3 separate regions of the Homo sapiens genome follow, and all the other regions are linked to region 1. A link means that fine-mapping ties the variant in region 1 to the expression of a gene that starts in the linked region. Tissue or cell type: whole blood. Region 1 holds a variant in brackets; each other region holds the start of a gene. All regions are shown on one strand. Distances are from middle to middle.

Region 1 (9,998 bases):
CAGTCCCTGTCGCCACGCTCCCTGCGGGTCTCCCCATCCCCCGTGCAGCTGAGGGGGCCGCATGCGGTTCTCTGAGTCTTTGGAATGTGCAGGCACCTGTGAGGCAGCGCCACCTTGGAAAAATTTGCACGGTTCTGGCCGGGGCTGCCAGCCTCCAAGGACACCTTGAGCCTGGCAAGGAGGGGTCCAACCATTTCTCATGTATGGCCACACACCACTTCCGTTCACAGAGACCCCAGCCACTCCGGGCGCCAGGTGCTGACGTGCCACGTGGGCATCTAGTAGACACGGATGCCGCATGGGGGTCTGGTAGACACGGATGCCGCATGGCGTCTGGTAGACACGGATGCCGCATGGCGTCTGGTAGACACGGATGCCGCATGGCGTCTGGTAGACACGGATGCCGCATGGCGTCTGGTAGACACGGATGCCGCATGGCGTCTGGTAGACACGGATGCCACATGGGCATCTGGTAGACACGGATGCCACATGGGCATCTGGTAGACACGGATGCCATATGGGGGTCTAGTAGACACGGATGCCACATGGCATCTGGTAGACACGGATGCCGCATGGGGGTCTGGTAGACACGGATGCCGCATGGGCGTCTGGTAGACACGGATGCCACATGGGCGTCTGGTAGACACGGATGCCACATGGGCGTCTGGTAGACACGGATGCCATATGGGGGTCTAATGGACACAGATGCCACATGGGCGTCTGGTAGACACGGATGCCACATGGGCGTCTGGTAGACACGGATGCCACATGGGCGTCTGGTAGACACGGATGCCGCATGGGCGTCTGGTAGACACGGATGCCGCATGGGCGTCTGGTAGACACGGATGCCGCATGGGCGTCTGGTAGACACGGATGCCGCATGGGCGTCTGGTAGACACGGATGCCGCATGGGCGTCTGGTAGACACGGATGCCATATGGGGGTCTAATGGACACAGATGCCATATGGGTGTCTGGTAGACACGGATGCCACATGGGCGTCTGGTAGACACGGATGCCATATGGGCGTCTGGTAGACACGGATGCCACATACGGCGTCTGGTAGACACGGATGCCACATGGGCGTCTGGTAGACACGGATGCCACATGGGCGTCTGGTAGACACGGATGCCACATGGGCGTCTGGTAGACACGGATGCCATATGGGGGTCTAATGGACACAGATGCCATATGGGTGTCTGGTAGACACGGATGCCACATGGGCGTCTGGTAGACACGGATGCCATATGGGCGTCTGGTAGACACGGATGCCACATGGGCGTCTGGTAGACACGGATGCCACATACGGGTCTAGTAGGACAGCGGGACCCGCAGGGAGCGTGGTGACAGAGACCGTGGTGACCGGGACCGTGTGCAGGGACCTGCCCTCCTGCTGCTGCATAAACGTTCGGGGGTTGGGGGGCTCCAGAACGGGGGCACCAGGTGCTCAGGAAGACCCGGCGGAGCCTTCGCCTCCCAGGCCCAGGGGCTGTCCTCTTTGTCAGCCGGGGGTCATCACAGCCAGGGGGCTCTCCCCCGCCAGAGCCAGAGTCCAGAACGTGCTCCAGAAGCCGCGACATGTCTGGTGCCCCGGGACTGTCTCTGGTGTCCGCAGCTCTCGTTTGGGGAGAAAAGGATTTCTCTGCTGAATGCTCTTCCCCCACATTAAAATCCAGGCTGTTGATCTGATTCTTAGCACCATGATTTTATACACTGTGTTTTCTTAAAAGAGAAAAAAGGGATTTTTGTATCCTGAAAAAAAGCATCATCTTGCTTTTGTAAAATCTATAAAAGAGCCTGTGATTTCTTTTTTGTTCCGCATGGTTTATTGAGCTATGAGGCTGGAGTTTCTTTCTGACAGTTTAATATCGAGTGACAGCCGAGGCTGCCTCTGAGAGATGCTCTTTCTGAACAAATGAAAAAATACACTTTTCCAGATTTAGATAAAGGTGAAGGTTGTTTGGGGTTTGAAATGTTTTCCTTTTCATGCAGCATAAACATGCATCAGGCACACATCCCTGAGACTCTTTCCGGCACCTTCCGCGCTGGGCGTCTGCTGCCTTCGGAGCTGGTTTGCAGGCGGGGCCCTTGGGATGTGGGTACCTGCCTCGCACTCTGTGCAGCTGGTGTCCTGGCTCCTGGAGTGGCGGTGGCATCCTCGTGGGGATGGGGGTGGCTGGCGAGTGGCCGTCGGATGCACCCCTGCCTCACACAGCCACAGGCTGGAGGGAAGGACCCGAGCGGGACATGGCCTAGGTGGAGCTGGGGCCTCTCCTGTGGTGCGTTGGGCGGGGGGTGGGGAGGCTCCACGCACCTCCCTAAGGGCAGCTGTGACATTTGTGTCCAGGATAAAGGCAAAGTCCACCATGGCGAAGACGCTGCCCTCCCAGTAGCAGGCAACATAGGCCAGAAACAGGGGTCCCTCATCCTCAGAAGGGCTGGGGTTGCCCCCTTCCTGGGCCAGCCAGTGGGGGACCCTGTGCTCCAAGCCGCTAACAGCATGTGCGCTGCTGGAGATACCCGGGTTGAAGTTCATCCTCAGACACAGCTGCATGTTGGGAGCACCCGTCCCTTCGTGCCCACAGTGGCTGGAGACGCGGCTGTTCCAGAGGGCATCCAGTCTGAATTCATGTCCGCCCATGCCCGCCCCCAGCTACTTCCAGAGGCATTTGAAGGGAGGACCTGTGCCCTGCACAGCTGCTTCTCAAAGGGGTGCCAGCACCTGTCCATGCGTCACTAACCCAAGCTCCATGCCGGGCACAGGCTGGGCGTCAGAGCCACCGAAACACCAACCTCTGCCCCAAGTCACTGGGCGGGCGCCTGACATCGACATGCAGGCTGTACCCCCCGCGCAGGGCACAGGGATCCCAGGGCCTTCAGAAGAGCCAGAGTCTAGAACCGGTGAAAGTGAGGGCTCTGCCACAGCTGGTGGGGGTCTTGGGCAAAGCACAGAACCTTCCAGAACTCAGCATCTCCATCTGCAAGTGAGGAGCTGGGCTGGGACCCCTAACTGCACCCAACTCTGGTCTCTGAAATTCTAGGTCCAGTTGCCTGCTTTGGGAAGCGCTGTCTGTAGGCCGGGGCCACCGCCTTGCAGTCCAGTCCAACACCCAAGGACCCGAGTCGCTGGGGTGGGCGCCGGCTGTGGGGCAGAGACGCGGCGCTGCGTGTGAGAAGCTGCTGCCTCCCCAGCGGGATCCCCAGCTCTGCCCGCGCCCTCGTAGGTGATCACTCGACCAATCATGTCCTGAGCAGCACCAGATGGGCTGGGCCACTCACACAGCCACAGACCAGTGGCCCAGACCACCTGAGGTCCAGCCCGAGCCAGTGAAGTCAGGGCCTCCCCTCACCCCAAGATCCAGGGATCCCGCCTGCCCCCCATCCAGCCAGGCACCAGGGTGCGGATTCACGCCTCCTGACACAGCCCCTCAGACCGCGGGTGGAAGCCTCTCTGTCCTTTCCTGCCGTGTGGGCAGAAGTCATCACCGCCCTGACAGGACAAAGGAGAGAATGGGGCTCTCGGCGGGACTGCCACCCTTCTGCCCGAAGGGACAGCCACCTTCCCCCTCAAGAGACGGCGACCTTCTCCCCCAGGGGACGGCCACCTTCTCCCCCAAGGGACGGCCGCCTTCCCCCCCAGGGGACGGCCGCCTTCTCCCCCAGGGGACGGCCACCTTCTCCCCCAGGGGACGGCCGCCTTCTCCCCTGAAGGAGTCAGGAGAGGGGGTGGCTCCAGGAGTTAGAGGCAGCAGTGCTGTTGCCCGGGACACCTTCTCCAAGGGTGTGTGTGTTTGGGGAGAAGCTGGGAACGCTATTTGTACAGCAGTGCTTCTGTGGGAACGCGTGTTTCCAGTTCCAAAAAGCCAACCAAATGCTCAGAACCTCCCCCTGGGCTGGTTGGTGTGATTGAGACTGGTCGCTCCAGTCTGCACCTGTCTGCGGTGACGGCCGCCCTTCCCGTCAGCCCCTCCGCGGTCCCGGCCCCAGCCCTGGGTTGAGGGAGGGCTGGGGAGGAGCAGGGACAGACGGGCAGGCACCAGGACGCTGGCTGCTGCGTGAATGTCACCTGTGGTCACGGCCGACGCCCGGCGGGCCTGGGCATGGAGTCAGGACCGGAAAGCGAGGCCGGCAGCAGCACCAGCTCCTCAGCAAGGCCCCCGCTGCCGACTGGGCACGGGCACTCCAAGGGGACGCCTGGCACGTGCCGGGATCCACGCGCGGAACAATTTAGAGAGGCAGCAGCGTGCGCAGCGGGTGAAGTGGCAGAGGACGAGAGACACTGTGGCTTAATGCCTGAATCCCACGGTTTCTTGGCACAAACAATTCCTAACAAGTGTAGGTGTTTATCCCAGTCACACTGCACACAGCTTCTCATTTTCACCATTAGGGAAAGGTCAAGTTCTCACACCGATAAGGCACAGGGAGGTTGCGGGAGACCTTGGGTCTCCGGGGATGGTTCCTCCAGCGTCGAGGTTGGCGGCCAACTCCGGGCCCCTTTCTGAGTGGCAGTGTCTTATCCTCTCAAGTCTGCGTCTCAGCCAGCGGGTTGAGCTGACTGGGGAATCCTCTTTCTACAGTCCCTCGACGGCATCCACCTGTGTCTGGCTCTCCTGGAGGTCGGCGCGCCTGGCTCGTGACATCGTCCCTCCTTGGAACCCCCCAACGCGGTTGGTCTAATCAAGTTTGGGTGTTCCAGACATTTTGGCAGACATCCGAGCTTACAAACTGTGATAACATATCCACATTAAACCCATAAACTACATTACACCCATAAACAGGAAGGACCCGGGGTCTACGCCACGTCAGACCTGCCCGCGCGTGATCGCAGGCCGAGAACAACCTTCTACTTCCGTTCCCTCCCCTCCAGTGTCTCAGGGCACCCACCAGCCCCAGCACGGTTCTCTCTGATGTGCGGCGCAGCAGCCTGAAGCATGCAGAGGCACGGGGCGGGCGCTGGTCCCACCCCCACGATGTCCTTCGGGGGCGGCTGAGCCCCGCCGTCACCCACGAGGAGCTCTAGGCGTTGGCGGAGCCTAAGGGAGGCAGGGCCGGCTCTGCATGGGGGCCGCGGAAAGAGGCCACCGCGCTTGTCTCCGCTGAGGGCCCAGGCGACTCGTCCTGCTCTCCGGAGTC[G/A]GCCCTCGGCCTGGCTACGCTCTCCCGCGGACCCCACCAGGGCAACGTCAGCTGGGTCCTCTCTGAGCTGACCCTCTTTAGAATACACGGGCAGCCTCCTGACATTGCAGGGCAAAGGCTGATAGCAGTCGGCCCTTTCTGACCTGGAAGTGGGACTGACCCGGCCCGCAGTCCCCCACCCTGTCGTCAGGAGCAGAGGTGCTCACACAGACACACGTCTGTGATGTGGCCGATCTGCCTCTGGAGCTCATGGAAAGCCGGGTGCCTGGAGCGGGTCTGAGGCTCCTGGCTCTGGGAGTCTGGATGGACTTTAAACTCTTCAGGACTGTGGTCCAAGCACCGCAGCCATGGGTGGCAGAGCTCACAGCGAAAACGGACTTAAACTGCTCTGCAGAATTAAGTTTGAATCATTACCTACAAACTCAGAAACGCAGCTGTCACTTGGGCAACTCTGGGTTTCTAGCAGCTAAAAATCATTTCCACCAAATGATCCGTCAGCCGCGGCGGCTCTGGGCCGGAGGAGGGCTGTTTCCTGCCTCCCTCCCGCCCCACTGGCGTCTAATCAGATTACCCAGCATCCTCGGGAAGCTAGCCTGCCCTCAGCCGTTGGGAAAACAATTTATTTGGAAAGAATTTGCTGAGGTCTTGTTACTGCTCAGGGGAGGTTCCCAGTAGCCCTTTGGCCTTGGGGCCTAGTGGAGATTTTGGCTTCAGGATTGTCTCAATATGGCTGAGCAGGTGTCTGGGCCTCGCTCCCTCTCCCTCGTACGTCTCTGGCTCAGGCACTTTTATCAGCACCTTTCAACTTTGTCCACCTCAAGCGCAGGAACAGAAGCTGTTGCCCGTGCCCTGTGGGGCTGGTCCAGGCCTCCCCAGGCACCGGCCAGCACCTGCGTTTCCATGAAAGGTCCCACCGACCACCCACACTCGCAACCCAAGCCTGGCCGGGCCGTCTGCAGCATTTCTCAGCCAAAATAGAAATCAGGTGACACCAACGTGACCACGGCAAGAGCGAGCTGGAGCGGAGCCTCGGGTAGCCATGACTAACAGACATGGTTCGCAAACCCACGCACACCTTCCAAAAACGCCAGGCTGGCCTCACATGACCAGGGGCCTCACCAAGTGCAGTGGGTCCCTGCGTGTCAGGGAGGCTGCCCAGAGCTGTGGCTGCTCCTGTCTTAGCCTCAACCTGTGCCCGGGGCCCTGTGGATGGATCCGCGTGGGGCGGTGGTGTTCCAAGTCCACGTGGGGCGGTGGTGTTCCAGGTCCACGTGGGGCGGTGGTGTTCCAGGTCCACGTGGGGCGGTGGTGTTCCAGGTCCACGTGGGGTGGTGGTGTTCCAAGTCCACGTGGGACGGCGGTGTTCCAGGCCACAGCGGAAGGAGGTGGGGCCACAGATGACTGTCCTGGGTCTCTGGCTGCTGAGCCTGCATGTGTGACCACTGAGAGGAGAGCTCCTGCTCCTTCCAGCCCCGGGGTCTTCGAGCTCCTGCTCCTTCCAGCCCCAGGGTCTTCAAGCTCCTGCTCCTTCCAGCCCCGGGGTCTTCAAGCTCCTGCTCCTTCCAGCCCCGGGGTCTTCAAGCTCCTGCTCCTTCCAGCCCCGGGGTCTTCAAGCTCCTGCTCCTTCCAGCCCCGGGGTCTTCTAGCTCCTGCTCCTTCCAGCCCCGGGGTCTTCGAGCTCCTGCTCCTTCCAGCCCCGGGGTCTTCGAGCTCCTGCTCCTTCCAGCCCCAGGGTCTTTGAGCTCCTGCTCCTTCCAGTCCCGGGGTCTTCAAGCTCCTGCTCCTTCCAGCCCCGGGGTCTTCGCTCTCATTGCCAGGATGAAAGTGTGAAAGACGTGACTGGGGTGGGCACCGTTGTCTTTCCTACTCACAGAAAGGTGGCTCCTCCTGAAGATGCTTGGGCTGACCTGAGCGTACTCCAAACAGGGGCTGAGACGTGAGGACTGGCGATAAAACGCCCCTGGCTCACAACAACCTCATCTTGCCAGAAACATGCGTTCTCCTCTAGACAGCCAAAACCCAAAGTTTCGCTTTAAACATTTTTCCAAGCAGAGGTTTTCTGGGGTATGAAACCTCTAGGGGCTGTTTGGTGGTCTCTGGGCTTTGCCGAGGGCCGGGGTGGCACCATTTTGTTGACTTAGGTCGGACGTGGCTGCCTGAGTCTGCATCGATCCTGCAGCTGGAACAGCATCTGCCCTGGCTGGTTCGGGGCCACTGCCCCCTGAGCGTTCCCGAGAGGTCCCTGAGAGCTCCTGCATTGTCTCGGGGGTTCAGTGAGCAGTTTGAAGGCAGCATCCTACTTTTACACTGCTTTTGACTTTTTTCCTCCATGAATTGAACACTTACTGTCTCTGAAAACTTGAAATCGGCTCCTTTGTCTCCAGGAAGCATAAGTCAGTCATGTAAAACTTTGCCCCAAGCTTTCAATCGCTTTTAAATAACAATCGAAATGTCACTGGATCCGCTCTTGCCGCCCATGAAGCTCTCACTCCTCCCGCCTCGGAACGCAGAGGTCTGTTCCCTCCCATCTCAGAGTCACACACCCGACAACGAAGTCAGCTCTGGAGATGCTGGCAGGGGCCCCAACCGAGAGTGGCAGCAGCGGGCATTGCAGCAGACTTGATGGCCTGTTGGGCGTCCAGGATTTACGGCCACGTTATTTTTACCATCTCCTTTTGCCATGAGACCCGGCAGAGCAGTCCCAGAGTAACACTTGGCGGGGCTCGGCTCTGCGGAGATGTGGCCACCGGGCTCCCTCCGCGTCCCTCGAGGCTGTGGCCACTCCCGCTCCTGCCTGACTTTGGGACCACAGGGTGTCACATCCAATGTCTCATTTCCGTAACATTTGGAAAGGTAACCGGCAAGACATGAAGACTAAGGTTTTCGAGGTTAGCCCTCCAATCTCCCTAAGGCTCCCTGGAGAGGCTGGACACCCTGTGTTATCTGATCAGCACGAGGGAGTGAACCTTAAAATGGGGCAGCTCCCATCACGCCAGCTCCCTGCCTTCTGTCCAGCAGTTCCCAGCCCTGTCTGGGGACAGCACTGGCGCCCACACAGAGGATGAGGAGGGCTCATCAGAGGTCTTCTCCACACGGCACGAGGTGGCATCCCCGGGCCATGGCTCCCATCTGCAGCAATGCGCCCTGCATCCCTTCACACAGCAGGTGCATCCCCTCACCTGCAGGTGCACAGCGGCCAGTGGGCTGGGAGGGTCTTCCTCCAGAGTCCTGAAACAGCGGAGATAATGTGGCATTTTGGCATTTGGGGACACGCTTAATCTTTGGTTTCTGTTTATTTGCCAAGAACCTGTTGCACACCTGTGAAGCCCAGGTCCTGGTGGGGGGAGGATGAGGCAGGGGCCCCCACTGCCCCCCCTTGCAGGGATGGGCTCAGAGGTGCAGTCGGTGAAGCCTAAGTGAGGGCGGGAGCAAGTGTGGGAGCTGGAGGGATCTGGGGTGACAGAGCCTTTGCCAAACAAAGAGGGAAGGAGGGCCCTGCCGAGCACGGAGCATGGGGTGTGTAGGTGGGGAGGGTCCCGGGTGGGCCTGGGAGGCCAGCCGACCCCCAGGAGAGTGTCAGAGCAGAGGCCAGTGTGGGCAGACGCAGGCCCTGAAGAGAGAGGTGGGTGGAGGACGAGGCCTTGCTTCTGAGTGAGAAGCCAAAGGGTGGGACCCACAGCTCTCGGGGCAAGAGGAGCCAGGAACAGGGCAGAGCTCGTAGCCTGATGCAGGCTGGGAGCCACACAGGGCAGTAAAATTCCCCAGTGAGGAGCTGGGATGTGTTCTGCTTGGGAGGCAGGATTTCCTCGACACACGGATGTTAGGCAAAGAAGGGAATGGGGAGCCCAGGACTGCAGCCTCCATCTCTCTCCTCAGGGGCAGGTACTCTGTGTGGGTACCCGCTTGGCTCCTCCAGTGGGGCCCCTCAGGTGCCACGGTGATGCCCCGTGGCCCACATCAGCCGCCTCCTCACAGGAATCCCGCAGCACCAGCCTCCTCTGCACCAGCAAGGCAGGCCCAGGCTCCAGCGGGGGCTTTGCAGAGGACATGTCTACCAGTCCCAGTCCACAGGGCCAACCCCAGCCCACTCACTGCCCTGCTGGGCCTGCTGCCTGCCGCCTTACAATGTGTTCTGGGGACAAAACTCAATAGTTACCAACAGACCCGCATTTCCTGGCAATTCTTGCCTTTAAAATCCTGATGTTACTTTCCAAAAGTAAATGGTTTAAACAGGCTCACAATTATTAATGATTTACTATGCTGGCTTGGAAAAATCAGCAGGACGTCTCTTGTCCAGCGGCGACACAGAACTAGACACACAAGGCTCTCAGCTGCAGCTGAGTGGGGCCGGGTGAGTCTCTGAGTGGCCTTGGACCCACTTAGTGCCCACCGCCTTTCTTGCTTGTACTTCTCAAGAACCACTGCAGATTCTTGCTGGGAACGCAGCATCCTGAGAGAGGGGGGAGCTGACCTGGCAGCCGGGCTCTGTTCCTGTCCCCCGTAGAGCAGGTATGCTGTGGGACCACAGCCAGAGCAGGGTATCCAGAAGCACCGCGGCCCAGGCAAAGCAGGTGTCCTGCAATACTGAAGCCTGGTGCATGCTGTCCCCTCGGTGTGGACCCAGAGCAGCACCTTCTGGATCCCTCTGCGGCAGTGCAACATGGGGCACACGCAGACGAGGCCCGTCCTGCCCTGGGCTGCTTTCCTGAGCCTGGGGACCAGCTTGCCGCCAACCCTGTGAGCCTGGGGACCAGCTTGCCGCCAACCCTGTGAGCCTGGGGACCAGCTTGCCGTGGACCCTGTGAGCCTGGGGACCAGCTTGCCGCCGACCCTGTGAGCCTGGGGACCAGCTTGCCGCCGACCCTGT
Region 2 (9,998 bases), 210 kb after region 1:
AACAAAAGGGGAAGAGAAGCCACAGAGCTCCAGGGAGGATGCTGGTTTTGTCTCCAGGGAGGTGGCTCTGGTCTGGGTGGGCCTAGGGAGGCGCTGAGCGTCTGGGGTGTGATCCTTGGGCAGAGGCTGAGGGCAGGGTCCTTGCAATTTTGAGAAAACCGAAGCAAACCTGCCCAGGAAGCATTTTCCAAGTAGCAATAGAGGGCCCCACCCTGGACCCCTGAGTCAGAAGAGGGATTGGCTGGAGCCGGAGATACAAATGTAGCCTGGAGGAGTTCCGCTAGCATAACAATGCCTGCAAATTAGTGGGCCCATCCAGAAAGACAAGTGGTTTGCCCAGGGCCATGCAGCTAAATGGGGCTGGGGGGGTCCCCGCTGGCCCAGCACCCAGCAGTCCTGAGGGGTTCCCTGTGGGTGGTATGGTTGCAGCCCCTCCTGCACATGCTTTTCTGGGTATCCAGAAGAATAGTTCCCGCTAGTGCTAAAGGCTGCTCCTGGGGAAATGAACGGCTTGCCCAGGTCTGAGGGGGAGGCCTGTGAGACCACGCCTGCAAGAACTGACTCCAAGCCTCACCTCATTTAAGAAACTGAGGCGCCGGACGCTGTGGCTCACGCCTGTAATCCTAACACTTTGGGAGGCTGAGGTGGGTGGATTGCCTGAGCTCGCTCAGGAGTTCGAGACCAGCCTGGGCAACATGGTGAAACCCCATCTCTACTAAAAATACAAAAATTAGCCGGGTGTGGTGGCGGGTGCCTGTAGTCCCAGTTACTCGGGAGGCTGAGGCAGGAGAAGTGCTGAACCCAGGAGGCGGAGGTTGCAGTGAGCCAAGATTGCGCCACTGCACACCAGCCTGGGCAACAGAGACTCTGTCTCAAAAAACAAAAAAACACTCTGAAGGCAGACGCGGTGGCTCACGCCTGTAATCCCAGGTCTTTGGGAGGCCAGAGGCGGGCAGATCACAAACGAGGTCAGGAGTTTGAGACCAGCCTAACCAACATGGTAAAACCCCATCTCTACTAAAAATGCAAAAATTAGGCATGGTGGCGTGAGCCTGTAATCCCAGCTACTCGGGAGGCTGAGGCAGGAGGAGGCAGGAGAATCGCTTGAACCTGGGAAGTGGAGGTTGTGCACTGCACTCCAGCCTGGGTGACAGAGCGAGACTCCGTCTCAAAAAAAAAAAAAAAAAATAGACACCCTAGGCCAGGCTAGGTGGCTCACGCCTATAATATCAACACTTTGGGAGGCCTGGGCGGAAAGATCACTTTGAGCTCAGGCATTCCAAACCAGCATGGGCAACATGGTGAGACCCCGTCTCACATCAGCTCCACCCTGCTGTGTTTCCTGAGAATCTTCAAGCTGCTAAAAGCCTGTTGGATGAGCCAAGCTTGCAAACATTCCCCCTCACATACACAGCCCCCAAAGGTCAGAGTCACAGGCTGAGGCCACAGTGGGGTCTGAAACAGAGCTTAGGTGCACCCTACATGACCCTGTCGCTCCAGAAGGTTACTGCTGACAGCAAGCCCAGGTCCAGACAGCCACATCCCAGCAAACACACCAGCACCCTAAGGGTGGGGGCTGTGCCGCTCTATCACTCGGGTTACTGGACACTCGGCCCTGGAGGAAGGACCCATCTCTGGGCTGGAGCAATTTAGGGGCACCAAGCAGAATTAATCTGCCTTCCTACTCAGGTAGTGGGGCAGGGGCCACGTGCTATGATCCTCCTGAGCCCGGTATCAGAATAATGAATCTGAATACATGGGCCCCGGACCTCTAATGCTTTCTAATCTGGTGCAGAGAGTGTATTTTGGCTGTTTAAATCAATCTAGGGGCCAGATGCGGTGGCTCATGCCTGTAATACCAGCACTTTGGGAGGCTGAGGCAGGAGAATTACTTGAGCTCAGGAGTTTGAGACCAGCCTGGCCAACATGATAAAATCCCATCTCTACAAAATACACAAAAATTAACTGGACATGGTGGCACGCACCTGCAGTCCCAGCTTCACTGGAGGCTCAGGCAGGAGGATCACTTGGGCCCTGGAGATCGAGGCTGCAGTGAGCTGTGATCACATGAGGCGCTCCGGCCTGGGCAACAGTGAAAGCCTGTCTCCAAAATAAGTAAGGCGCTCTGTAGGCATGGCAGGATTAGCCTCCTGTGTGCTGTTTAATGGGGCCAGTGTCTGAGCACAGTTGGTTTAGCGTTACCTTTTTTTTTTTAGATGGAGTCTGGCTCTTGTTGCCCAGGCTGGAGTGCAATGGTGCGATCTTGGCTCACCACAACCTCCGCCTCCTGGATTCAAGCGATTCTCCTGTCTCAGCCTCCCGAATAGCTGGGATTACAGGCATGTATCACCACGCCTGGCTAATTTTGTATTTTAGTAGAGACAGGGTTTCACCATGCTGGTCAGGCTGGTCTCGAACTCCCAATCTCAGGTGACCCGACCACCTTGGCCTCCCGAAGTGCTGGGATTACAGGCGTGAGCTACCGCACCTGGCCGGCTTAGCGTTTCTTTATCGGCCATGCACCAGACCAGCCCCACTTCCTAGTGGACGTGTCGGGGAGCGGGGAACATGGGGGAGTCGGGGAGCGGGGAGTGTGGGGGAGTCGGGGAGGGGAGCGTGGGGGTGTCAGGGAAGGGGGCGTGGGGTGTCGGTGAGGGGGGCATGGAGGTGTCGGGGAGGGGGGCGTGGAGGTGTTGGGGAGCGGGGATCGTGGGGCGTCGGGGAAGGGGGCACGTGGGATGTCAGGGAGGCCGAGGCCACAGGGGTGGGTGTTGGGGAGGGGTTGGGGAATCTCTACAAACTTTTTTTAAAGTCTGGTTAATTGACGTGTAATTCACATACAGTAAAACTCACCATTTGTAGTGTACGGTTCTACGAATTTGTAAAAATACATATAGTTGTGCAACCAAAACCACAATTGAGTTACGGAACATTTCCATAACAACAAGAAACTTTTTTTGTGTCCCTTTATAGTCACCTGCTCCCTGACTCCCAGCCCTGGCAACCATTGATCTATTTTCTGTTCCTATAGTTTCGCTTTTTCTAGAGGGCCATATGAATGGAATCATACAATGTGCAGCCTTTTCAGCCGAGTCTCACTCTGTCGCCCAGGCTGGAGTGCAGGGGCACGATCTCGGCTCACTGCAACCTCCATCTCCCAGGTTCAAGAGATTCTCCTGCCTCAGCCTCCTGAGTAGCTGGCCTCCCCCTCAGGTGGTCCCAGAGTGCTCGGAGGAGGCTCGGGCGAGTCGCGACGGGGCCGGCAGCACGCGCTGGGCCCGGTGTCTGTCCTCAGGCCCTGGACTCGGGGGGAGCGCGTTTCGGGGACTAGCTGGACTCCGGGCTGTGCGTGGGGGCGGTGCTGTCGGCCTGGGAGTGACGCGGGACTTCCTGCCCAGCGCAACCCGGCCTGGCCCCCGAGGGTGGGGGACAGGGCGACGCCCGCGGGGACCACGCTCTGGGGCGTGCGGGGCGCAATTCACGGGGCTGGGCTGCCCCAGGGGCTGGGAGGAAGGAGGCAGGGGGGCGCCCAAGTCTCCTACCCATGGCAGCGCATCAGGGCGCGTCCCAGAGCCGGGGGTGGACGGAGGCTTGGAGGCGGAGGCTTTGGGGACCCCCAAGCCTGGGCTAGAGCAGCCTCGGCGGGCTCTAGAGGGAGGGTGGAGGGAGGGGCCCGGGCTGCAGGAGGCGGGGAGGCCTGAGCCACGGTGGTGGGGCCGCTGGGCAGGAGAGAGGGGCTGCCTGACCCTGCCGTGTGAAGGTGAGGTTGTCTTCGGGCTTGGGGGGATCGGAGGGGGCGGTTCAGGTGGAGGTGGTGGCGGGGGGCTGGGAAACCGGCAGGAGGGGCTCTATGTAGAGCTGGGGGTGGGGGTGCTGAACCACGTACAGAAGGGGGCTGAGACACCGGGGCCCTGGGCCCCGGAAATTAGAAATGGAGAAATGGAAGGCTGGGTGCTGGCGTTTCGGAAATGCATGCTCGTGGTGTTCCTCTTTATGTAAGGGAAGCTTCTGGGCCTTTTCCCTGCCTGTCGAACGTTCTGTATGTTTTTGCGGGATGTGTGAGGTGTGCTGTCTTGCTCCACTTTGAGGCACCGCCCCCACTGCGGGAGTGCTGGGGACCTGCCCCATGGGGCATCCTCGGGGCCAGCCCTGTGGCCACAGGCATCTGGGCCCTCGCTGCCCCTGGCCGGGACACACTGCCGGTCCTGTGCAGTGGCTCAAAGCCCCTCTACCGGGGGTGACCCGGTCTCTCCGGAGATGAAGTGCAGCGGGGGTCTAGGCCGGCTTCCTGGCCCCCCACCCCTCCTGGCTTTACCCCCGAGGCCACGTCCAAAGCCCCCAGCGCCCCACCCCCGCCAGCCTCCCCCTTGAGGGCCCAGTGACCTAACTGGGCCGGCAGGGTCCGAGGAAGACCAGGGTCAGCGGCGGCACGGTCCGTTCCGCGACCCCTCTCCTGTGACCCCAGGTAGGCCGCCGATCGGTTCCCGGCTGAGGTCCCGCCCCAGCGCCCGCCTCCCGGGCTCCAACCTCTTTGCTCAGCCCGGGAGGCTCGGCTGGCTGGGGCGGGCGTAACCGTGGGGCGAGGCCCGCCGGTCTTTCTGATTTCCGCGGGCGGCGTGGGCGCTGAGGCAGCCGCGGTCAGGACCTGGCCGGGAGTCGGGGCTGCTCCGTGGACCCCGCGTCTGCGCCGAAACCCCGCATGGCTTCGGGGGCCGGACCTGCGCCTCCGCCTAACTCCGGCCGCCGGAGACGCCGTGCGGACCCCAAGCCAGTGCGCGGAAGACACCGTCCTACCCTCGGCATGGCTGCCTCCCACCCGGTCACGTCGGTCCCCGCGCCCCACGCCGACGCGCAGGCGACCCGGGGACGCGGAGACGCAGACAGCTCGGGACTCAGGTTCGTGGGAGCAGCGGCCGCGCGTGGCTATGACCGTCCCGGGGGCCCGTGCTCAGGGCGTCCCCGTGAGGTTTGGGCGCCACAGTCACCGGCGGCTCTGCCCGCGCCCTGGCCACAGTGGGGACAGCCTGGCTTGGCGGGGACGCACCAGTCCCGCCGCCGACGCGGAGTTCCTACCCCGCCGTGCGAGGCAGTGGCTCCGGCCCTTCCAGCTCGGGATGGAGTCAGGGAGCCGCCCGCGCCCGAATGCAGAGGCTCCTGCGATGGCCCCGGAGTGAGTCCCCCAGAGGAGCCGGATTAGGGCTGGAGGCGGCCGAGTCCCCCGAGAGGCCCCTCCCGACATTCCCGCCCCCGCGCGCCGCTCCCCGGGTCCTCCGCGTCTCTTTCCCGGGAAAGCCTCCCTCGGTTCCTGCGCGGCCGCACAGCCTGGACGCAGCGCACGCGGGCACCGGCCTGACTCTCCCACCCCGAAGCCTGCTCCCAACCTAAGTCCGCCCTGACTCTCCCAGCCTGAAGCCTGCTCGCCCTCGGGTGTCCGGGCTGGGCACAGGCGCCAGCGTCCCCCTGGAGAGGAGAGGTCGCCCGGCACCTCCCAGGACAGGCCCAAGTGGGAGTGGGACCCTCCTACCTTCCTGCAGCCTCGGCCCGCGGGGTGGGGGGTTGGGAGAGATGAAAGGAGGTGACCGATCCCGAACCATCGCCTCTCCATTAACCAGGGCCCGCAGCCCCGCCCCTCCCCCAGACATCGAGGAGCCGGGGAGGTGTGAACGGCCTCCTTTGTGCCTCTGAATCGAAGGCAATTAGGCGCTGCTTATCTGGGCATTAGCCGTGTATGCAAACCGGGCTCCCGCCCCCTCCTCCTGGGCTTATAAACGCCGCCGCCTGGCGAGGCCCGAGGTGGATCCTGCGCCTGGCCAGCCCCGCCTGGCCTTCCCTCCGGCCCACCTGGCCGCCATGCGCCTCTCCTCCTCCCCACCTCGTGGCCCGCAGCAGCTCTCCAGCTTTGGCTCCGTGGACTGGCTCTCCCAGAGCAGCTGCTCAGGGCCGACCCACACCCCCAGGCCTGCCGACTTCTCCCTGGGGAGCCTCCCTGGCCCAGGCCAGACATCCGGCGCCCGGGAGCCCCCTCAGGCCGTCAGCATCAAGGAGGCCGCCGGGTCCTCAAATCTGCCTGCGCCGGAGAGGACCATGGCCGGTAGGTCCGGGTGGGGGGGGTCCCTTCCTTCCCAGGTGGAGATGGGAGTGGGGGAGAGGCCAGGAGCCCGGCGGCTGCACTCCCCGCGGTGCCCTGCCCACTAGGTCAGGGCCGGGGGCGTTTCCATGAGGGCCGGCGGAGGCCTTGCCGGCGCCCTCACTGGAGCGCAGCTTCCCTCGGAACCAAAGCCTTGACGGGGATTTCCTCTCCTTGAGCCCCCGGTGGGCTCCTCTGCCTCCTTTTGTCACCCCGTTCCTCAGCTGTGTCTTCGTCCCCCACCCCGGCCTGGTGCCGAGGGACCGTCCAAGGGGTCCCCGTCCGCACCTCCCTGCCCTGATTCCGGGCGCTCACTGAAAGTCTCGATGATTTGCCAAGCCCCCCGCCCCCGCCCCCCAGCACAGCCGGTGCCTGCTCAGCGTCTAGGCTCAAGCCCATTCCGGGTCACCTGGAGCACAGCTGTCTTTAAAGAGCCTGCAGGTTCGCTGCAGGGGTGGCGGTGACCCCGATGCCTGCAGAAACTCTGAAGTTCCCTCTGTGGCCGCCCAGATGCTCTGTTGTCTGCTGAGAACAAAGGTTCTCTGCGTTTGTGTTTTAGTCTTTGTGACATCATCACCACTTTTAGGTTTAAGGTAGTACTTGGTCAAAAGTGGGGTTGACATCATCTACAAGTTTTCATTTTTAAAAATTTGACTGATCCTTATGGAGTGACTTTGTACTTAAGGGAAATGAAAATTTAAATGTATTCTCCCCAGCTAGCTATCCTGCCCCACCCCAAAAAAGCCAGCCATCCCTGTCCCGCAACCCCCTTTCTGATGCCAGTCCTACAGCCCTCCCTGCCAGAAGGCATTTGCTTTTTGGGTCTACCATGTGCTTTCAGGCTAACGTTAAGACAGATTTTGTAAAATACGCTTCCTTCCGCAGAAACTCCAGCGAGCATTTTGGTCAGACTTGCATTTAATGTCGAGCTCGATTGGCCACGTTGGCCTTTCCTGGGACCCAGACCCAGCTCCACAGACCACCTCGTGGGGCCGTTTGGTGCCAGCCCCCATTCCTTAACTTAGAAATTAGGAAACAGACTTGACCACAGTGGGCCTGGGGATTAACTGAGTTGGCCTCCGCTGGCTGAGGAGACGGAGCCCGGGACAGGGATGGGTGCCCCTGGGTGGGTCGCCAGGCCTTTGCATATAATGGATTCTTACCTTACCGGCCTGGAAGGCTGTGGGAAGGGCATCCTGGGAACCGGCTTCTGGAAGGGAAGTGTGGGATGGGGCGGAACTGAGTGGACTGAGCGGAGGGCAGGCCCAAGCTGCTGTTAACATTCCCTCCCCTCTTGAGCCCCCTCTCTGAGCCCCCTTTCCGCATGTGACCTGGGAGGCGGCGGGGGTGCTGCTGGTCACTGTCAGGTGAGAAGATCTGCCCTGCCCAGCCCCCAGCATGGCTGTCTTCACCTGTTACCCGTGGGCACGAGCTTGCCCCATGGGGTGGCATGTTGAGCCAAATGCCCTTACCCTCTATGTCAGGGTTGAGTAAGGAGCCAAATACCTTGCGGGCCCCCCGTGTCCGCACAGCCTTCACCATGGAGCAGGTCCGCACCTTGGAGGGCGTCTTCCAGCACCACCAGTACCTGAGCCCTCTGGAGCGGAAGAGGCTGGCCAGGGAGATGCAGCTCTCAGAGGTCCAGGTGAGGTGGGCCGGGCAGGCTGGGGTGGGCAGGGGTGGGCAAGGGTGGGCTGGTGGCCTAGTCTCACCCCTGTTCTGATCTTGCTTTTCCTACAGATAAAAACCTGGTTTCAGAATCGCCGCATGAAACACAAACGGCAAATGCAGGACCCCCAGCTGCACAGCCCCTTCTCGGGGTCTCTCCATGCGCCCCCAGCTTTCTACTCAACGTCTTCTGGCCTTGCCAATGGCCTGCAGCTGCTGTGCCCTTGGGCACCCCTGTCCGGGCCCCAGGCTCTGATGCTGCCCCCTGGCTCCTTCTGGGGTCTCTGCCAAGTGGCACAAGAGGCCCTGGCATCTGCGGGAGCTTCCTGCTGCGGGCAGCCTCTGGCGTCCCACCCCCCTACCCCAGGCCGGCCTTCGCTGGGACCAGCCCTGTCCACGGGGCCCCGGGGCCTGTGTGCTATGCCACAGACGGGGGATGCATTTTGAGGAGGCACCTCTGACTCCCACACTCGCGGTCTTGCTGATCGCACCTGGCTCCTACCTGGAGGACTCAGTTGTTCTGTTTACATCCTGGTGGCACCTCTCACCCTGACCCACACAAAGGTTCTGGAGATTACTGGAGAATATATATAAATATATATATGTACGTATATATGTAAATACACATATACGTATATATAAATATATATATACATATGTGTGTGTATATATATATATATTTTTTTTTTTTTTTTTTTTTTTGAGACGGAGTGTTGCTCTGTCACCCAGGCTGGAGTGCAATGACGCAATCTCGGCTCACTGCAACCTCCGCCTCCTGGGTTCAAGCGATTCTCCAGCCTCAGCCTCCCGAGTAGCTGGGATTACAGACACCCGCCACCACGCCCGGCTAATTTTTTCTATTTTTAGTAGAAATGGGGTTTCACCATGTTAGCCAGGCTGGTCTCAAACTCCTGACCCTGTGATCCGCCCGCCTCGGCCTCCCAAAGTGCTGGGATTACAGGCATGAGCCACTGCACCCGGCCCTGAGAATATATTTATTAAAGCCACCTCTTCACTGAAAGTTACCGAAAGAGTCGGTTTAGGAAGGAAACGAAGGGTCAGTGAACAGAGTCAAATGCAGAAGTGGGCTTGTCATGGGTAGGGCTTTCGGCGTACGATAAAAGGATCATTTGTTTTTTAAAAGGGGTTGGAAAAACTGGTTTTCCAGTTGGAAACAGTAAAGGTTGTAAGCTTTGTGTGTACAAAAGAAAACAGGGAATGCAGGTGTGTTTATAGCGTTGTGGTTCAAGTCCCTCTTAACAAGAACTCCAAAGCTGGAAAGCAGGAGGGAACAAAGGTGAACATGAAGGCGAGGATGCTGGGGCCCTGCAGTGCGCTCTAGGCTGTGCGTGAGCCGGGACTGTACCCACAGCTTGCTGAGGGCTGCTCTTCTTGGGCCAGGGAAAGCAGGGCAGCCGGGACCTGCGGCTGTGCCTGGACTGAAGCTGTCCCGCAGGTCCCCACCCTCCAACACGTGCTCACCTGTCCCCCTGCTCGCAGCAGCCTCGGGACAAAACAATGACTCAAGGACAGCACTTCTTGCAGAAGGTCTGGAAGTGCCCAGAATGGGAGGCACGGAAGCCCCTCCCGGGGAGGACTCCCGCGTTGATGGACCGTTCTTGGTGCAGACTCCTGACTGCGTGCATGAAACCTGAGACAAGTGCAATTCCTTCCATGTCGCCCCAGAGTGCCCAGGAGGCAGGCAGTGCGGGGTGCCCAGGCAGACGGGTTCAGCCTGCAGAACTGGAGGCGACCTGTGAAACCCACCCGGGCACCCCAACAGGAACAGAAGCGTGGTCCTGCGGCTGCGTCCCCAGCGAGTTTCACTTTCCCCTTGCTCGTTTCTCCCTTGTTGTAAGTGTTTACAACTGGCATGTGCTTTTAAACGTCAGGTAAGAGGGGAACAGCTGCTGTACATCGTCCTGGCGAGTGACAATGTGACAGAAGCCTGGGCGAGGCCCTCGGAGGGCAGCAGCTGGACAGGGACTACTGGGTTTGGCCTGGACAGCACTGATTTGTGGATGTGGATGGGGGCACGTTGTCCGTGATAAAAGTACAAGTGCCCCTCACCGCCCGTGGAGATTGCTTTCTGGTCCCCTGTGTGGCCCCAGGCCACAAACCACACCGTCTTGGTCCTGAACTCTCCCGGTGAGTAAGGGCCCTGGCCTGGTGGTGTCTCGAGGTCCTGCCAGCACACTGGGCC
Region 3 (9,998 bases), 260 kb after region 1:
GTAGTCCCGGTGAAGTCGACACCCCTGGAAGTGGGAGTGACACAGATGCCCTGGACACGGCTCCCTCCCCACTTCCCTCCCACCCCAGCCCTGCTCTCCCTTCCACCCCACCCTGCCCGCCCTCCCTCCCCAGCCCTCCCCACCCTGCCCGCTCCGCCAGCTCACGTGATGAGCTGTACGTTGTCATGCAGGTGCCGCCGTGTCCGTTGCCGTGCCTGCCAGGTCAGGAGGTTCTCCAGTGTGACACTGGGGTCGGGGCTGACGTGGAACCTGTCCTGACTATTCCAAATCTCCAGGCCCACCAGGACCACACGGAAGTTGAGTTTCTGATATAGCTGGAGAGGTGGTGGAGTCCTGGGGGTCAGGCAGGGTGGCGGAAGGTACAGCAGGGAGGGTGGGTGGCGGAGGATGCACCTGTCCCACGGCGAGGTGGGGCCAGGCACAGGTGCGGGGCAGAGCTGGAGCAGGTGGAATGAACCCTGTGGCAACACCCCCCCCACCTCCCGCCAGGGGCTCTGGCACCTCTGCAGCCAGGACCGCTGCCCACCTTGTCCACGTGATTCACCACCTCCAGCACCCGATGACGCACGGCTGCTTCGCTCCCCAGCATCTGGAACTGGGGACACGAGACCCTCAGGCTGGAGCCCACACACCCCCCATGCCCCCGCCGCCGGCTGCTCTCCCACCTTCCCTGCCCCCAACACACCTCTGCATTGTCCACGACCACATACAGCTCCACGTAGCGGGTCTCTCGGGATGGCAGAGAGTCCTGGGGAACAGCCACAAGAAGCCAGTCAGCCTTCCCAGCGCCGGGGCCTGGACCCTCCCTCAGGGACCCGGGGCCACTGTCCAGCCCCTGTCCAGTGCTGGGGGAGCGTGGCCAGGCCTGCTCCAGGCTGCAGACAATGGGCAGCACCCAGCACATGGGGAGCCAGGAGGACTCACAGGCCAGGCAAGTGGACACCGGCAGGGCCAGCCAAACACAGGAGACAAGGGTGCTCACCCCGGGCCGAGGCCTGAAGACGGCTGCCGTCCGGGGTCCCAGGAGGCTGCCCAGGCTGTCGTCGCTGACCCCGCAGGTCCCGGCCGTCTGCAGCAGGTGCTCAGCCTGGTACACGGCGTGCCGTCCGCCCTCGCCACCTTCATCCAGGGGCTCGATCAGGTGCAGGTCTGACCCCACCTGGAAGAAACCCCTGAGGGGAGTGGGAGCCGGGTGTGCTGTGGGCTTCAGAGTGGCCTGGTCCTGCCCCGAAGGACCAGAGGCTCCAGTTTGTTGCCTACAGCTCCCCCTACCCTGCCACCAGCAGCCCCCCGCAGGTGACTTCAGGCCCCAGGGTACAGGAGGGTGAGCCTCTTGGGCTTGGCGTCCCCTGAGCAGACCCCCATGCAAGACAGCAAAGGCCTGAGTGGGAGGAGGAGGCACCCTCCCTGCCTCCCTTCCCCACCCCCACCACAGGCTTAGGCCTTCCTCTCCACCTGCGGGAGCCCTGGCGTTCGTCCGCCACACCCACCTGAGGCCGGCACAGGTGCTGAGGCTGGCGGCTGAGTCCGGGTACCCCTCTACGTGGCCCTGGTAGAAGCAGTGGTCCTGCGGGGGAAGCAGGAGAGGGGTCCACAGGCTGTGCCCCCATGGCCCCACAGGCTCGGGGAGGGCCGCCCAGCCCCTACCTGCCCGCCCAGCTGCTCCGCCCGACCCATACCTGCCCGCGAGGCTGCTCCGTCACCTCGGAGCCATTGGCAGCCGTATAGGTCTCTGTGTAGCCGGAGCCCAGCAGGTCCCTGGAAAAGAAGTGCTGTGACTGCCTCGGCCCCCTCGGTGCAGAGAGGCTGGCCCAGAGGCTGGACGCCGGGGACACCAGTGTGCTGGAGCCAGGCCCGGGCAGGGGGGCCGACCCGAGACCCACTCACCTGTTCTTCCGCAGGTGGAGGGTGAAGTTGTGCCCTGTGGCCCCAAGGACGTAGCTCACCCTCTCTGGGTGCAGGCCCTGAGCGAGGAGGGAAGGGTCCCAGGTGAGCAGCCTGCCCGGGCTGTGCCCACCTCAATCCTGGGGGCCAGAGAAGCTCAGCTGGGGGGGAAGGGGTGCCGGCCTCCAGCCCCAGGTCAAGGCTCCATCCTGGAGGGTCCACAGCCTCAGGCAGGGTAGAGGGTGGAGGGTGGAGGGTAGGGGGCAGGGGGTGGGGGGTGGAAGGTGGAGGGTGGAGAGTGGAGGGTGGAGGGTGGAGGCGGGGGGCGGAGGGCAGAGGGTGGGGGGCGGGGGGTGGAGGGTGGAGGGTAGGGAACGGGGCTGTGCTGAAGGCGACCGGCGGAGCCCAGCACTTGGGTAGACAGGAAGGACACGGTGCTCCTCGGTCCTCCCAGGCCTCAGTTTCCCCATCTGACCACGCATGGGTAACGACAATGCCCCTTCCCCGAGAAAGCATAGGGTGGGGGAGGCATAGCCTCAGCCAGGCAGCAAAGGAGGTGGGTGGCGGGGATAGCACGCACAGGCCCCTCCAGCGACAGCTGCCTGCCTCCAGGACCCATCCCTTCCAGCAGCTGCCGGACCTGGTGGTGCCTGCAGAGCCTCCTGCTGGACCACTGCATCTCCAGCCCCCATGTGCAGGCTGGGGCTCGGCCTGCAGAGCTCTGGGACAGCCTTAGCTGTGCCACCGGCTGGATGAGCCCAGGGCAGCGGGCAGGTCGGTAGTAGGTTCCCCGGATGCTGAGGTAAGGACAGGGCTGGGGCCGGAACTGCCCTCCCTGGAAACAGGTGCACACATGCATATGCCGTGCACATGTGTGCACACCCACCCACTCAGGCTTCAGGAATCACCCTCGGGCAGCCCCAGTCGGGGAGGGGGGCATTCTCAGTTTCTAGCCCTGGGAAACCCCCGCCAGGCCCCCCCCCCAACACAGGAAGGTGTGTCAACTCTGCGGTGAGCCAGCGTCACTTCTCAAAGAGGAATTTGGCTTATCAGCCTCGCCAAGTGAAACTGGGGAGGGGCCCGGGGCCAGCACAACCTGCCCCTGCTCCCTTCCAGGGGTCCATAGAGCTCCTGAAGGAACGAGGAGGCTGGGAGCCCTCAGGCAGTGCTGGAGGGAGGAACGGAGATGGGCCCCAGGGGGCTAGAGCTGTACAGGGCAGCCCCAGACACCCACTGGCCTCTCACCACTTTCTGTAAGCTAAAGCTCCTTTCACAAAAATAGGCTCAGGGGCCAGCCAGGGACCCTCCCCAGGCCAGCTTAGACTCACCAAGTGGGAGGGCAGAGCTCGGCGGACTCGGGGGCCTGGCAGACGCCACGGCAACACGACCTCATACTGCTCCATGAGGGCCCAGGGCCGGCTGGGGGCAATCGCTGCAGGAGGGAGGGTCAGCAGGCATGAGGGGCCGGGGGGCAGGTTTCCTTCCCAGAGGCCTCCTGGGCCCTCAGATTCTGTCTCTTGCTGGGCTTGACCCTCCCCTGGGGAACTCACCAGATAGCTCTGGGACAAAGACTCAAGTGAGGGTTCTGTGCCTAAAAGACCCCAGGAGCGCCCCCAGGCATGGCCGGTGGGCCTGTGTCCTGCAGCACCCACACACAGTGCTCAGAGACGCTGTGGGTGCCAGCGGGTGCCAGTGACTCCACAGGTCTCCAGGCTGTCTCAGATCTCTGGAGGGGCCCGAGGGCAAGGATGAACCTTCCCCCCAGGGAGGAGGACTCGGGCCGCCGACCTGCCCGTTTCCATTCTCCTCCTCCATTCTTCTGATCATCTGATCGCATCTAACTGGGGAGCAGGAAGTGCCTCCCGGAGGCTGTTCACCTCCCAAGAACTGGAAACTCCCTGGTATCCGAGAGCAGAGGGCAGGGTCCCAGCATGCAATGGGCAGGGTTTCGGAGACCACCAACCCCAGGACCCTTTGCTCCCATTAAAACACAATAGTGGACGTGTCTCCATGACCACATCTCCAACCTGGAGAGGCAGCAGGGGAGCAGCCAGCCCCTATCTGCCCAGGAAACTGGCGGGAAGCAACCCGGCCTCCAGCCTGAAGCTCCTCAGCACACCCCAGCCCAAGTCACTCCAGGAGCAGGGGTGGGATCCAGGGTCAGCAGCCCCATGTCCTCCCCCAGGCAGGAGACGGGTCCCCTCAGCCCACACCCCTGCACTCCAGGCCTCAGCTTGTCTGCCCTCCCTTCCCTCCTCGGCTAAATAGTGGGGGTGGGTAGCCCCACAGGTGAATCCCAGGAACCCAGGGCGCCTCGCGCAGCAGGTGAAGCGTCCTGCTTGGCCCGGCCCCGACCCCACTAACAAGCTCAGAGGCGGGACTTCCCTCTCACAGTTCACCTTTGAAGGTTCCCTCCGACCTCCCCGGCCTCCCCGGCCCGGGGCTCTCCACCCAGAGACCACTGTGCACCTGATGGCCCGCTCCCAGGGACCAGCCCGAAGCCGGGCCAGGGTGCGGGGTGCGAGCAGGCCAGGGGCTCGGGGTCCGCGTCGCGTCCTGCGGGGAGAGCCACCCTGCCCCGCGCTGCGCCCGGGACGGTTCCCTGGAACCACTCACCAGGCAGCATCATCGCGCCCAGCAGCCAGAGCCCGAGGCCGCGCATGGCCGGGTCGGGGAGCAGAGGCGGAGGTGACAGCCCCGCGGGACACGGTCTGGTTCCTGCGCTCCTGGCCCGAGGCTCTTTTCCGCGCGCCCCGCCCCGGCGCCCCGCAGCCAATGGGCCCCTCGGCCGGTGGGAGGGGCGGGGCGCGCGGCACCTGGGGGCGGGGTCCGTTTCCCCTCTCCCCACAATCCAGCATCCTCCCTTGCACAGGTGAGGAAACTCAGGCACAGCCTGTCCCAAGTCCGGCCAGAGCCCCGAGAGGGGGCCTCTCGAAGGACCCGGCGGCTGGAAGGAGGTGGCGCCAGGCAGGTCCTGGAGGGGAAGGGACTTGTGAGGGCCGCCTGGCGGTTTCAGGAGAGGGGGTCTCTGATTTCCTGGGGAACAGAAAGCCTCAGGCAGGGGCAAGTCATGGCTTTGTGGGCATAGGTTCAGCCCTGTGGGAAGCTCTGCCACCCTCCCCCCCAAGCCTGCGCCCCCTCCACCAGGCTGAGGCCTCACCGGAGTGGGATAGGCATGGGCCCGCAGGCGTCCAAGTGGGGAGGGGGAGCCCTAGGTGGGGGTCCCAGCCCAGGTGATGGCAGGTGCAGGGGCCGTCCCTAGCCTAAGATCCCCAGACAGCAGCTGACGCTGGCCGACGTGGACCAAAGCCTGCAGCAGCCCACCGTGGCCTGGCTCCGGCGTCTCCAGGCCTGCGGCCAAGCGTGCTTGCCCTTGGTGACCACATTCCCCGTGGTGGGCTCAGCCTCGAGGGTGCAGGTTTGGGCTGACACCACAGCTCCCCAGACGGTCCACCCAGGACCCCTCCCTGGGGCTTTCACAGCCAGGCCGCCCTCCTGGAGTGGGAACAGTGGTGGTGGCAGGAAAGGCAGCTCAGATGACCACACAGGGCGCTGCTGACAGATCACATGGGGGGGGGGGGCCTCAGGGCCTCCCTGGGGAGAGGCAGGGCAGGGCCAGCAAGGGGCTGGAGGGAGTCCTGCCTGGAGAGAGGGCACCAGGGCAGGGCGAGTCAGGGAACTGCACGGGCCTAGGGGCAGAGGACAGAGGTCAAGGGGCAGTGGCAAGAAGAGGCCGGGGCCTCGGACGTTATCCTGGGAGGACAGGGAACCCGGAGGATCTAAGCTGGCGTGAGTGATGCTGTCACATTTTGTCTCAAAGCCATTCTTACCCTAATGTGAATGGCATGAAAAGCAAGAAAGCAAGGGCTGGCACTGGGCCGCAGGTGACTTCTGCTGCCTGGGGGTGTGTCCGCTTGCCTGTGTGGCACAGGACGAGGTCCCCCAGGCTGCCGAGAGGCTCCCAGGTAGGGCTGGGGATACTGGCCTGTGCCTGAGCTCATGCAGGTGACCCTGTTATTATAGAACAATGGCCAGCTGGCAATCACACTTCCCTTCCTTGACCTCATGGTGCAAGTTACTCAACAGCAAAGTGCAAAGGCGGCACGCTGGCCACATCAGAGGCACAGCAAGGCCCCTGCCGACGCTGAGCTACCAGGGATTTATTCCTAAAAAGACAGGACCAGCTTGGGCCAGAACAGGCTCCTCCCGCGCTGAGGAAGTTCCACCCAATCCCACAGAACACAGCTCTCCTCTTCAGCAGGTGCCGGGGGGTCTGGGAGCCTGAACCCCACAGCCCTGGAGGCTTCCCTCCCCTCCTCCTATCACCACCTGCAAACCCCACTTCTCAAGGCCCAGGGCTTCCCAGACCCCAGGACACAAGATCAGGGGTTTCTGGGCCTCGGGGCCAGGCAGGAAAGCTAGCAGGCTCCTCTGCTCACCAGTCCGGCATTTGCACAACACTGAGACTGACAGCTTGGGTTGCTGATAAATGTGTTTACTCACAGGCCAGACCTGCACAGCCTGCAGACAAGGAGGAAGCGGTTTGTGGCTGGAGAGTTGGACACCCCCACCCCCACTCGGCGGTGCTCTCAGTGAGGCAGCCCCGGGTGAGAGCTGCCCACAACCCTTGTTCCCCGCAGGATCCTGTTCTAGCTATCCTTTCTCCCAACCTCGCCTCCAGGGCCCTTCCTCACTGCCCAAGGGGGCCGAGGTGCTGAGAGCTGAAGGTGACAACAATACACATGCAGGTCAGCAGGAAGGGGCAGCTTGGCCAGAATGTAACCAGAGCAGACCAACCTGGCCGGGCAGCCCTGAGGCTCCCAGGGCCCTGTCACACTGGGGATGGCGGTGCTGCCCACTGTAGCCCTGGAGGTGGGAAGACAGGGCAGATGATCGCCCGAGGGGGATTGGGTGTCAGTCTGCTGAGTAAGTTCTACGTAACAAGGCGGTACCGGATAGGGCGGGGTGGGGTTTCCAGCCAGCAGCAGAGCCTGCCCCTCGACCCACTCCCACGGAGGGGGAGGTGTGGGCTCCCAGGGTGCCTGAGGGCCCTGTCTGTGGCCTCCTGCCCTGGACCAGTTGGAGCAGCAGCAGGAGGAGGGTCGTGGAGGCGGGTGAGTCCTCAGGAGAAGGAACGGGGCTGCCTCTGGGGCCAAAGCAAACCCGACACCCGATGCCCGGTGGGTTTCCACAACTCCCTGACCGTTTCCAGAGGCTTGTCCCGGTTCCGACAGACCTCAGGAAGCCCGGCCCCAGCTCACCCGGAAAGATGTGGACACCAGGCCTGGATCTTACCCCACATGCATCTTTGCTTGCTCCTGGCTTAAACACCATGTATTTCCACTTTGAGGCCAAAAACACCCAAAAAGGTGATAGTGTAATTTCAAAAAGCAAACAGATTAGCAAATCCAGGGAGACATCCACCCTGCCTGGGCAGCTTCTATAAAACGAAACCCAGCGCCTTGAGAAACAAAGTGAGCTGAGTCAATCATTCCTGCTTTATATTTAAACTGCAAAGACAGAACACAGAGCATTCGATTTGAAAATTCTGGACCCATTTGCACCAGTCCCTGCTGACCCCACACCCTTCCTTCCTGTCACAGCCAGGGCTCACTGTGCGGTGACTGCGACCCTGGGTGCAGGAGCCGGGGGCCCCCGCAGGACAGGCACTTGGGGGGTGGCCTTCTGGCTCCTCTCTGCAGACAGGCGCTCCAGGCGCTCCGTGTAGAAACCATTGAAGTCAAGCCTGTGAGGAAGGACAGTGGAGCTGGGGTGCACACCCCTTCTGCGGGTGCATGCTGGGCAGCAGGGGTGTGGAAGGACGGTGCAGCTAGGGTGCACACCCCTTCTGCGGGTGCGTGCTGGGCAGCAGGGGTGAGGAAGGACAGTGGAGCTGGGGCACACACTCCTTCTGCGGGTCCGTCCTGAGCAGCCCTGCTCCTACCATGGGGAAGTGTTCAGCTACAGAGACCATAAGAGGCCCTGCAGGGGTGAGGGTGAGGCACGCTCCTAACTAATGTTTCCACAGGAAGGTTTTCAGTCCTGTTCAGTCCTGCTCAAAGGCACAAACACAGGTTTCTTCTCTCCTGGCCCCAGAAAGTTGGGGCTCCCATCACCCCAACAGGGCCTAGCAATGGGGCCTGAGGTGTCAGGGGCTTGGAGAACCAAGCAGTGGTTCTCAATGCAGGGTGGCCTCAGAAATCCCTGCTCAGAAAATCAGAACATTTGTGGGGGGCACAGGGCACAGGGTGGTCCAAAAGCACAAATAGGCACCTTCCCAAGGACAGCACCCCCAAGGGCACCACCCCTTCCAGGCTGGCAGTTTGGCCACCTGGCCCTTTCCCCCAGGCTAGGTGTTAGTGCAGCATGAGGGAAGCTGACCCAGGCCTGATCAGCCCCACAGGACACACACAGCCGCAGGGTGCCAATGGGGCAGCCCAGTTGCACAGAATGTCACACCCCAGGGAGAGCTGGGCTAGCCTGACTTCAGGGAGTGGCATATGACCAGCACTAGCACCAGGACACAGACCTGCCCCACCTTCTGAAGGAGGCTACACCAGGTGGACCAGGGGAGGGTGCAGGGGAGATGGGGCCTGGATGCAGGGACAGGTGCTGAGCTGGGGTGGCGCTGGGCTGGGGCAGATGCTGGGCTGAGCTGAGGAAGGGCTGAGCCGGGGCAGGCGCTGGGCTGAGCTGGGGGAAGGCTGAGCCGGGGCAGCACTGGGCCAGGGCGGTGCTGGGCAGGGGCAGGCGCTGGGCTGAGCTGGGGGAAGGCTGAGCCGGGACAGCACTGGGCCAGGGCGGTGTTGGGCAGGGGCAGGTGCTGGACTGAGCTGAGGAAGGGCTGAGCCAGGGCGGTGCTGGGCAGGGGCAGGTGCTGGGCTGAGCTGGGGGAAGGCTGAGCCGGGGCAGCACTGGGCCAGGGCAGTGCTGGGCAGGGGCAGGTGCTGGGCTGAGCTGGGGGACGGCTGAGCAGGGACAGCACTGGGCCAGGGCGGTGTTGGGCAGGGGCAGGTGCTGGACTGAGCTGAGGAAGGGCTGAGCCAGGGCGGTGCTGGGCAGGGGCAGGCGCTGGACTGAGCTGAGGAAGGGCTGAGCCGGGGTGGCGCCCACCCACCTGGAGATGACGCTGGCCATGCCGTGCTCACAGTCACTGGTGCTATAGATGCTCAGCCGGGCCAGGAGGTCCAGCAGGTGGGCTGAGAAGTTCTTGTCAAACTTGTTGATGGTGGCCTCGAAGCCGGACACCAGCTGCACAGTGTCTGCGTGCTCAGCCAGGTGCTGGAAAGAAAGCCGGGGTGCGTGAGCCATGCCCACCCCCACCGTGGGCCTTCTTGGCTCCACACTGTTCCCAGCAGGCCGGTGTCCTTTCCCTTCCCCTTTTCTTAAATAGAAAACATGGGTTCCATGATGTTTTCAGGAGATTCAAGGTAAAAAAGACATCAAAAAACATTCCTGAGAACCCAGCACTCAGAGAAACACTCCAGGCCTCGTGGGATGAGGTGGTCACTCTCCTTTGGGGTGAGATGAACGAGCTTTCCCAGCAGCTTTCTCAGCAAGGAGGTCGGGGCGCCTCTCAGTGTCCCTCACCTCCGGCCCCCACGCTTCCAAACCCAACTCCTCTCTGCCAGCTCCAGCTCCAGCGTGTGAACACGGGACTGCCCACCCCACCATGCCACCCCGGAGCCGGCGCCGCAGGGCCATGCCTCCGAGGACATGCAGCCTGTCCGTGCCTGCTGAGAGCCTGACGGTTCTAACTCAGGACCGAGCTCAGCAGGGACAGCGGGTGTGGCCCCTGCCCTCGCCCAGGCGCCCTGCACAGCGCTCGCTCTGAAGATCTGTGGGGGTTCCCTCGAGCCCGACTGGCTGAAGTGGGGACCAGAGAGCTGAGAAGATTGTGAGAGGCTCTTGTGCTTGTGCTTGGAAGCTAATTTTAAGTCTTTTCTTCAATCTGAGGGGAGATGGAAGTAAAAGGGGGGAGGTTTGTTCTCCCTGCGTCAGGATGCCCAGGCTGCCGCCCAGCCGGGAGGAAGCGTCTCTCTCTGGCCAAACCTGGAGGCCACGCACCTTCCTGGCGAGCTCCTTCCGGGCCC

Evidence for each region.
Region 2: VENTX starts here. The variant in region 1 is fine-mapped to the expression of VENTX in whole blood (TOPMed, PIP 0.96).
Region 3: ADAM8 starts here. The variant in region 1 is fine-mapped to the expression of ADAM8 in whole blood (TOPMed, PIP above 0.99).

The regions. Positions count from the first base shown.
Region 1 is chr10:133,017,236-133,027,233 of GRCh38, forward strand. No RefSeq gene overlaps it. Among named protein-coding and RNA genes, the nearest start is that of LINC01168, 57 kb to the left of the region's middle. The variant G/A (reference allele first, on the strand shown) is at 5,132.
Region 2 is chr10:133,232,065-133,242,062 of GRCh38, forward strand. It overlaps VENTX (VENT homeobox), which reads left to right and starts at 5,791. Exons shown (of 3, transcript NM_014468.4): 1 at 5,791-6,091; 2 at 7,612-7,772; 3 at 7,868-9,864. The coding sequence starts at 5,851. The coding sequence ends at 8,242. RefSeq lists enhancers at 1-534, 2,952-3,556, 4,766-5,369, 5,370-5,974, 5,975-6,578.
Region 3 is chr10:133,272,251-133,282,248 of GRCh38, forward strand. It overlaps ADAM8 (ADAM metallopeptidase domain 8), which reads right to left and starts at 4,618. Exons shown (of 23, transcript NM_001109.5): 1 at 4,522-4,618; 2 at 3,234-3,337; 3 at 1,909-1,985; 4 at 1,701-1,779; 5 at 1,512-1,588; 6 at 1,004-1,193; 7 at 707-769; 8 at 548-616; 9 at 166-335; 10 at 1-24. The coding sequence starts at 4,567. It overlaps TUBGCP2 (tubulin gamma complex component 2), which reads right to left. Exons shown (of 18, transcript NM_006659.4): 16 at 9,973-9,998; 17 at 9,023-9,186; 18 at 6,385-7,651. The coding sequence ends at 7,516. RefSeq lists enhancers at 2,111-2,760, 2,798-3,057, 4,061-4,708, 6,023-6,072, 6,563-6,642 and a silencer at 4,308-4,867.